2 separate regions of the Homo sapiens genome follow, and region 2 is linked to region 1. A link means that fine-mapping ties the variant in region 1 to the expression of a gene that starts in the linked region. Tissue or cell type: nasal epithelium. Region 1 holds a variant in brackets; the other region holds the start of a gene. All regions are shown on one strand. Distances are between the middles of the regions.

Evidence for each region. PIP is the estimated chance that this variant, and not a neighbour inherited with it, causes the effect.
Region 2: CEP70 starts here. The variant in region 1 is fine-mapped to the expression of CEP70 in nasal epithelium (TOPMed, PIP 0.94).

What each region holds. Positions count from the first base shown.
Region 1 is chr3:138,540,633-138,544,795 of GRCh38, reverse strand. The region is part of intron 6 of CEP70 (centrosomal protein 70); the gene reads left to right. Among named protein-coding and RNA genes, the nearest start is that of CEP70, 52 kb to the left of the region's middle. The variant C/T (reference allele first, on the strand shown) is at 2,105.
Region 2 is chr3:138,592,204-138,596,366 of GRCh38, reverse strand. It overlaps CEP70 (centrosomal protein 70), which reads left to right and starts at 2,107. Exons shown (of 18, transcript NM_024491.4): 1 at 2,107-2,169. RefSeq lists an enhancer at 1,843-1,902.

The sequences.
Region 1 (4,163 bases):
TTCATTTAACGTAATGACCTCCATTTTCATCCATGTAGCTGCATGTGACAGGATTTCATTCCTTTTTATGGCTGAATAATATTCCATTTGTGTACACATACCACATTTTCTTTTTCCAGTCATCCATTGATGGACACCTAGGTTGAATTCATATTTTGGCTGTTGTGAATAGTGCTGCAATAAACAAGAGAGTACAGATACCTCTTCAATATGTTTATATATATAATATGTGTGTATATATATACACACACACACACATACATACATACATACATACATACATACACACTCTGTAGTGGGTTTGCTGGATCATATGGTTTAGTTTTTTGAGGAACCTCCATACTGTTTTCCATAGTAGTTGTACTAGTTTTCATTCCCACCTATAGTGTACCAGGATTCCTCTTTCTCTATATCCTCACCAGTACTTTTTTTTTTTTTGTCTTTTGAGTAATAGCCATTCTAACTGGAGTGAGATGATATCTCATTGTGTTTTCTTCCTTTTTTACTGTCTTCCTTTGTGGTCAAGTGATTTTCTTCTTTTTTGGTTGTTTTAATTTTTTGCTTTTTTTTTAGTGTACCTGTTTTATTTTTGCTTTGTAGTTACCATGAGATTTACAAAAAAACATTTTATAGATATAACAAGTTATTTTTTAAGTTAAGGAGTTTTTAAAAGAGATGGGGATTTTACTGTGTCGGCCAGGTTGGTCTTGAACTCCTGGCCTCAAGCAATTCTCCTGCTTTAGCCTCCGAAAGTGTGGAGATTACAGGCATGAGCCTGTGCCTGGACAACAGGTTACTTTAAATAGATATCTTGCCTTGATCACAAATAATAGAAACAAACAAAGGAAAAACTAAAACATTCTACACTTTTACTCCATCATATTATGACTTTTTGTTGTCTCAGTTTACATCTTTTTACATTATCTATACCTTAACAAGTTGCTGTAGTTATTTTGAGGGGGAGCTTTTTGTTTTTGTTTTTTCTTTTTTTTGAGATAGGGTCTCACTCTGTCACCCAGGTTGGATTGCAGTGGTGCAATCTCAGTTCACTGCAACCTCCACTTCCCAGGCTCAAGCTATCCTCCTGATAGAGGTGGCAACAAATCTGAAGCAGCTGCTGTAAGGAAGCCAGCAGTGGAGGAGGTGCAGGCAGGGCTGCGTGCTCCATGGAGCTGTCAGGGGCTAGGAACAGGTGATCCCAGTGGGGACCCTGTGCTCCCAGGCACAGCTGCATCTGCCCAGCCACAGCTTGGGACTTGGGCATCCCTGCGCTCTTATGGGCCTGGAAAGCCCCCTGCCCCCTCAGGCTTGGAAGTACTTGCTCCCACTGCCTGGCCTCTCTTCACTCCCAGTACCCACTCTGGTGTAGAGTGAAGTTGTGGCTGAGCACGGGTGCTGTCATGACCCAGTCAGGTGTGTGTACACTCGGGGCAGTGCTGACATGCCAGCCCCCTACTGCCTTGGTTCCCCCAAGACTTTGGATGCCGACGAGCGCAGAAGGGAGGCTGGGAGGTTGAGGGCAGCTTGGCATGGGCCTGTGAGTGTCCTGCAGTGCAGACAGCCTGGGCACTGCAGATGGCATGTTGATGGTGGTGAGAGGTAGACAGGTTCCTAGGCAGAAGGGGCAGGTCCTCAGTGAAACCTCACCTTCAAGCCAAGGACAGCCTGAAGCCTGGAGGCCAGGCTGCCAGTGCCAGGTGGAGTCCGCAACCTGGAGTGAGAACTTCCTTCATGCCTTTTGGCCAATTGGATGATGCTTTTTCCAGGCCTTCCCATGGCTGTCCATGGACCAGTCAGCACATACTTCCTCCCTTCTGAGCCCGTAAAAACCCAAGGCTCAGCTAGACTCAGGGACTCATCAACTCATTGGGACTACCTGACTGTGGATAGGAGCTGCCCACTTAGGGTCTCCTCTCTACTGAGAGTTGTTCTGTCACTCAATAAGGCTTCTCCCCACCTTGCTCACCTTCCAGTTGTCTGTGTAACCTCATTCTTCCTGGACACAGGACAAGAACTTGGGACTCACTGAATGGCGGGAGTGAAAGGAGCTGTAACACGTTCCTGGCCGACTCGCCGGGCTGTGCGTGGTGACAAAGACAAACTG[C/T]GTGAGTGAAGAGTGGTGACCTTTCTAGGGGCCCAGACCTCAGGATTTCTGAGCCAGAGGTGCTGTCACATCATAGGCCTCCCACCCTCCACTGGCACCTGGTGGCTGCGCCATGCAATGGGAAGCAGCTGTGGGGCCAGGCCAGCCCAGGAGCCACTGGCCAGAGCAGGGTGGTGGGACTGAAACAGCTGTAACACAAATGGGCTGAAACATGTGCCACCTGAAACACATCCCCCGACTTGCTGCGCTGCGGGTGACAAGGAGAGAAGAGTTGTGACTCTTCTGGGATCCCAAACCTCAGGGCTCCCAGAGCCAGGGCTCTGACACACTCTAACACCCTCTTTGGGCCTCTGTGGTTCCTGGCATCTCTGAGCTTTCAGGCGCCCCTGCATTCCCCTTGTCCAGGCATTGGTGCCCACAGCGGAAGCTGCTTGCAGTACATCTGGTCCAGCCACAGTCTCACATGGAGCCAGTGCCTGTGCTGGTGGCTGGAGCTGCCTGCCTCACTGCAACAGCCAGTGTGCCTGGCTGTGCACATAGCCAGACCCCACATTTGCTAACTCACACACCCCTCACTGCTCTGCACCTGGCTTGCCCTTAGCAGGCATGGGGTCTGGGCTGGTAGCACAAGCTGAGTGCAGCCTGCCAGGCCGAGTGGGCAGAATAAGCCCAGCAGGTGTGAGCAAAACTCAAGCAGAGGTACCACTGGCCACAGAGGTTTCTGGCTGGTGAAGCGACACACTGAGGATCTTGTGATGCTCCCACCTCAGCCTCTCAAGTAGCTGGGATCATAGGTGCATGCTACGACACTCAGCTAACTTTTTGTATTTTTGGTAGAGATGGGGCTTTGCCATATTGCCCTGGCTGGTCTCAAATTCCTGAGCTCAAGCAATCTGCCTGCCTCTGCCTCCCAAAGTGCTGGGATTATAGGCATGAGCCACTGTGCCTAGCCTACTGTTTTAAGTAGATTTGTCTTTTAGTATTCATACTAGAGATATGACTGGATTACACACCACAATTATATTATTAGAGTATTCTGCGTTTGTCTGTATATTCACTTTTACCAATGGGTTTTATACCTTCAAATGTTTTTTTGTTTTTGCATGTGGTGTCCTTCTCTTTCATAGTGAAGAACTCCCTTTAGCATTTCTTATGAGTCCCTTTCAAGTGTTTGCTTGTCCTGGTAAAGGCTTTATCTCCTTTGTATTTCAAAGATAGCTTTGCTGAGAATAATATTCTTGGTTGACAGGTTTTTTTTTTTCTTTTTCTTTTTCTTTTTCTTTTTCTTTCAGCACCACGTTGAATATGTTATTTCACTCCCTCCTGGCCAATATGCTTTCTGCTGAGGATTCTATTGCCAGATAAATCAGAGCTCCTTTATATTTTGTTTTCTTCTTTTCTCTTGATGCTTTTAGGATCTTCTCTTTGTGCTTGACTTTGAGAATGTACTTATTTATTAAACTTTTAGATTTGGGTAAATGTGAAGGTTTGTTACGTAGGTAAACTTGTTTCATTGGGGTTTGTTATACAGATTATTTCATCACCCAGGCATTAAGCCCAGTACCCAATAGTTATCTTTTCTCCTTCTCTTCCTTCTCCCACCCTCCACCCCAGTGTCTGTTGTTACCTTCTTTGTGTTCATAAGTTCTCATCATTTAGCTCCCACTTATAAGTGAGAACAAGTAGTATTTGGTTTTCTGTTCTGCATTAGTTTGCTAAGGATAATGCCGTTCAGCTCCATCCATGTTCTCGCAAAAGACATGATCTTGTTCTTTTTTATGGCTATGTAGTATTCTATGGTGTATATGTACCACATTTTCTTTATCCAGTCTACCATTGATGAGTATTTCAGTTGATTCCATGTTTTTGCTGTTGTGAATAGTGCTGCAGTGAACATTCATGCATGTTTCTTTATGGTAGAATGATTTGTATTCCTCTGGGTATATACCCAATAATGAGATTGCTGGGTCAAATGGTAGTTCTGCTTTTAGCTCTTTGAGGAATTGCCATACTGCTTTCCACAATGGTTAAAATAATTTACATTCCCATCAACAGTGTA
Region 2 (4,163 bases), 52 kb before region 1:
GCGATTCTCCTGCCTCAGCCTCCTAAGTAGCTGGGATTACAGGCATGTGCCACCACACCCGGCCAATTTTGTATTTTTAGTAGAGATGGGGTTTCCCCATGTTGGCTAGGCTGTTGTCGAACTCCTGACCTCAGGTGATCCACCTACCTTGGCCTCCCAAAGTGCTGGGATTACAGGCGTGAGCCACTGTGCCCGGCCAACACATTTTTATAAATGAATGAATGTTAAATGAATGTTTAGAATTATTAGAATTCTATTGGGTAGATGAGGCCCATAGAAAACTCTTGAGACCAATGTAGCAGGATTCTCAGTGAAAGACTAAGTTTGTGTGCAGGGATGTTTTCCTTCTCTAGCAAAGAGAGGTGCTGGAAAGGCTTTCATGGTCCATAAGAAGGGAATTGTTTTGGAGGGCAGTGCTATAGCAACTCTTCCCCTCCATTCACCACATAAAAAATTCAGTTAGAAAATAGAGAGGAATCAGCCTTCTTGTGCTTTGAAGACTGTGAAAGATACTGGTGATCATCCATCTAGCATCCATTTTCCTCTTCTCCTTTACAGGTCTCCAGTTTTATTCAAATAGCCATGTCTCCACCTTGCAACTCATGTGACTCAAAGAGCACTGACACCATTGCCAATTCCAATTGTCATAGCTCCTTTTCACTTCTGGAACCCAGGCTTAAGCTGTCTGTACATTTCCCAGGCAGTTACTGGTAAAGAGGAAGAGTGTGTGCCTGTGTGAACTTATTGGCTCAAAAAACCAGAAGGAAAGGTTTTAGATGAAAAAGAAAGTATGTGGTCCTGATTTCTCCAAGTAGACATCTGGAAAATCACGTTAGTATGAATTTGAAGTCTACCCTTTTTTTTTTTTACAACAAAGCAGAGACTAATAGCAACTGGGTCCTTGTTAACTTGCTTAGCCACTGAATTAATCAAAGTCTCCCTTGCCTCTGAGCTTTCTGTTATGCGAGATAAGCAACTTCTTTATTTTTTAGGAAGACAGTTTAACTCAGATTCTATATCACGTGCATCCAAAATAATAATAACTGACTCAAAGATGTTTGGCCTCTACAATTAGGGCAGCCATTCTCAGAAGAGTATGCAAGGGCACCCTATTATCTTGGAAAAGGGAAGCACTGAGACTATTTGCATTTTGAGAACTGAAAATGCAATCTGCTAACCGTCGTTAGAGTGAATATCCAGGTATGGAAAGCACAGTGGGTAGGCGTAGGTTGGGGTAGGGACATGTTTGCATGGGGCAAACACAGAGATCAAACCTAAGTGTAGTCCCAGCTGCCTGGAAGAAGGCTAAGAAGGGTCTGAAAGTATTGAGCTCCAAGAGCCCTTGGATCTCCTGATGAGAGACCCTTGGCTGATGCCCTAGATGGGACATCCCTGTTGGCTACTGTGGGACCTGCATCATTTGACTGCAACACAGTCTGTTGCAACATTTGACTGTAACACAGACCTACATCATTTGACTGATTTGAAAAGACAAGTTGTCAACAGCGACACCATGTGGCTATAAGATACAATGACAATGGTGGACAGCTACAGCCTCAGGTAGGGCCTGACGCTTCGTCGAGATGTGGAAAATGCTGAATGGGAAGATGAACTGTCGTCAACAAATATTTATTGGGGTCCTCCAAATGTCAGCTGCTACAGTGGTCATTCAGGTCTGGAACATCGAGAACATGCTGACCCGTACCCCAGCAAGGGCTCGTAGTCGCGGCGGGGTAGGGGGCGAGAGAGAGGGCAGTCTCTGGTGGCCAGGTAACCCAGGCTTCACTTTCACCCACGGCCACAAGTATTTCTGACGTCTTCCGGGCAAATAAGCCTCCATGTAAGTGACAGGGCACCCAAGGAGTGCGTTGGAAGCGCCAGCGTGCCCGAGACCAGCACATCGCACCGACGCCTTCGTTTGCGGTAAGCCCCGCCCCCCGTAGTGAGCCAACCGGAGGGAGCGGGGCGGACCCAGCTTCCCGGAGAGGCTGGAGAGAATCGTTTGGGGGCATTCGCAGGCCAAAGAGGGGCTGGCCCTCGACGCGCTCGGGCTCGATTGGCCGCCCTCCCCCGGCGGTGGTAACGGTCGCGGAGGCGGGGCCTGACGTAGCTGATCCCAGCCTAACCTGGCCCGGCTGGCTGCTGGTGGGAGGCCGGCGACTGAGTAAGGTGAGTGGCTCTCGGGGCTCTCAGAGGCGTCGGCGTGAGCCCCTTCCCGGAGTACCCCGGACTTGACCTCACCTGGGCCTAAAAGTGGTCAGACTGACCCTTGTCGGGGAGGAGCCATCTGGGACAGGGTCGCGCCAATTAAAAATCCCTGCGTAAGGGTTTGGGGATCGGACAAAACTGCCTCCAGTCCCAGCTCCCCAGGCTTTGTGTTCTTTGGCTTCTCCTTTAATGTCTCAGCGCCTCCGATTCTTTATTTGTATACTAAAGCTGGTAATTCTTGCCTTACAAGGTGGTTGTGAGGGTTAAATGAGGCAGTAAGAGTAAAGCTTAGAATCACGTCGGGCACAGACTCGATTTAAGCTGTAGGTAATTACTCCATCCCCCAAAATCGACCCGGGCTGAAGCGCTAGTTTTGTGTCAAACAACCGCGAAGGTTGTTTGGGGAGTGAGGACTCGGAGCAGAAGGGGGCGGTTAGGCGAATAGCACAGGTGAGTATCTCTTTCTCCAGTTTATTAACCTCATTCCGGATTCAGGAGACCTCTGACTTTATACAGGGCCTAATAGGAGTTTTTCAAGGTGAAAAATGCCAGAAGGCTAAGTCACCTGTAACAGAGAGACCAATCAGAGTTTCCTTTTTTACTGCCACTTTGTTTTTCAATCAATGATATTAAACAGGCAGGGCGCAGTGGCTTACGCCTGTAATCTCAGCACTTTGGGAGGCCGAGGTGGGCGGATCCCCTGAGGTCAGGAGTTCGAGACCACCCTGGCCAACATGATGAAACCACGTCTCTACTAAAAATACAAAAATTAGCTGGGCATGGTGGTGTGCGCCTGTAATCCCAGCTACTCGGGCGGGTGAGGCAGCAGAATCGCTTGAACTCGGGAGGCGGAGGTTGCTGTGAGCCGAGATCGCGCCACTGCACTCCAGCCTGGGTGACGGAGCGAGACTCTGTCTCAAAAATATATGTATAATATATTAAACTCTGTGCAGGCATTACCCATATTGGTTTCAAGCCTCTGCATGAGTTTTGTACTTTAAATATTGCCAAGTAGACTCTGGCCTCCCCTGCCCCGCCTTTTGGGGAAGAGGTGGCTGACTTGGAGTTTTCCCTACAGCTTTTGCTTCAAAGCAAGGTTCTGCCCCTTCATGTCACCTCTCCTGAGACAGAATGATTTGGTTGAGATGACATTCCATTTTAACTCTTTCCTATTTGGGGTAAGTTCAGCTCTTTCTTAGGAACATTAAACAGCAAGTTGCAATATTTTTAGAATAGAGCTTTTGCATTTAATAAGGAATAGAGACTTCGAAAGGGTTACATGTTCATTTATTGCAGTAATTTGAAGTATATACTTTTGAAGATGCTTACAGATTTTGGTGTGATTCAGTTGAGAAGGAACAGTTATTGGCCATGGTTTATTGTCAGCTCCCCTCCCCCACCCCAAATGGTGAAAAAAATAATTAAATTTTAAGATATGGAGCATGTTACAAGGGGCTTCAGACCTATAAAGGGCAATTTGGCTGAAAGACTCGGGAAACCTAGAAAGTGCCAGAAGATGCAATTATGTTTTTGCTTTTCTATGCTTGGCTTACTATGCCATGTACAAATCAACTCCTACCCTCCGACTCCTACCCCCCGACTCCTACCCCCAACAATCTTATTTTAAGTGTGTTATGACAGTAATTAAAGCTGTAGCTTCTGTTTTGGCCCTAGAAAGCATTTGGTCTCTTCCTGTGACTTTAAAGTTCCAGACCTTTGTCCTGTCACAGCCTGTAGTGGGGAAAAGGCTGCTGCAAACTATTGGCCCGTTTATTTCACAGAATGGTCCTCTGAAAAGGAGGGCTTGGTCACAGGTGCAAATGAGGAGTAGTTTTGTTCCTGTGTTTGCTTTTGTGATCAGTGGTAGTTTGTCTGAGGATGCTTCATTTTAGTATCCTTGCAAATGAGAATATCCTACCTGTGGAGCCAGAAGTCAGAATTGATGATAGATGATG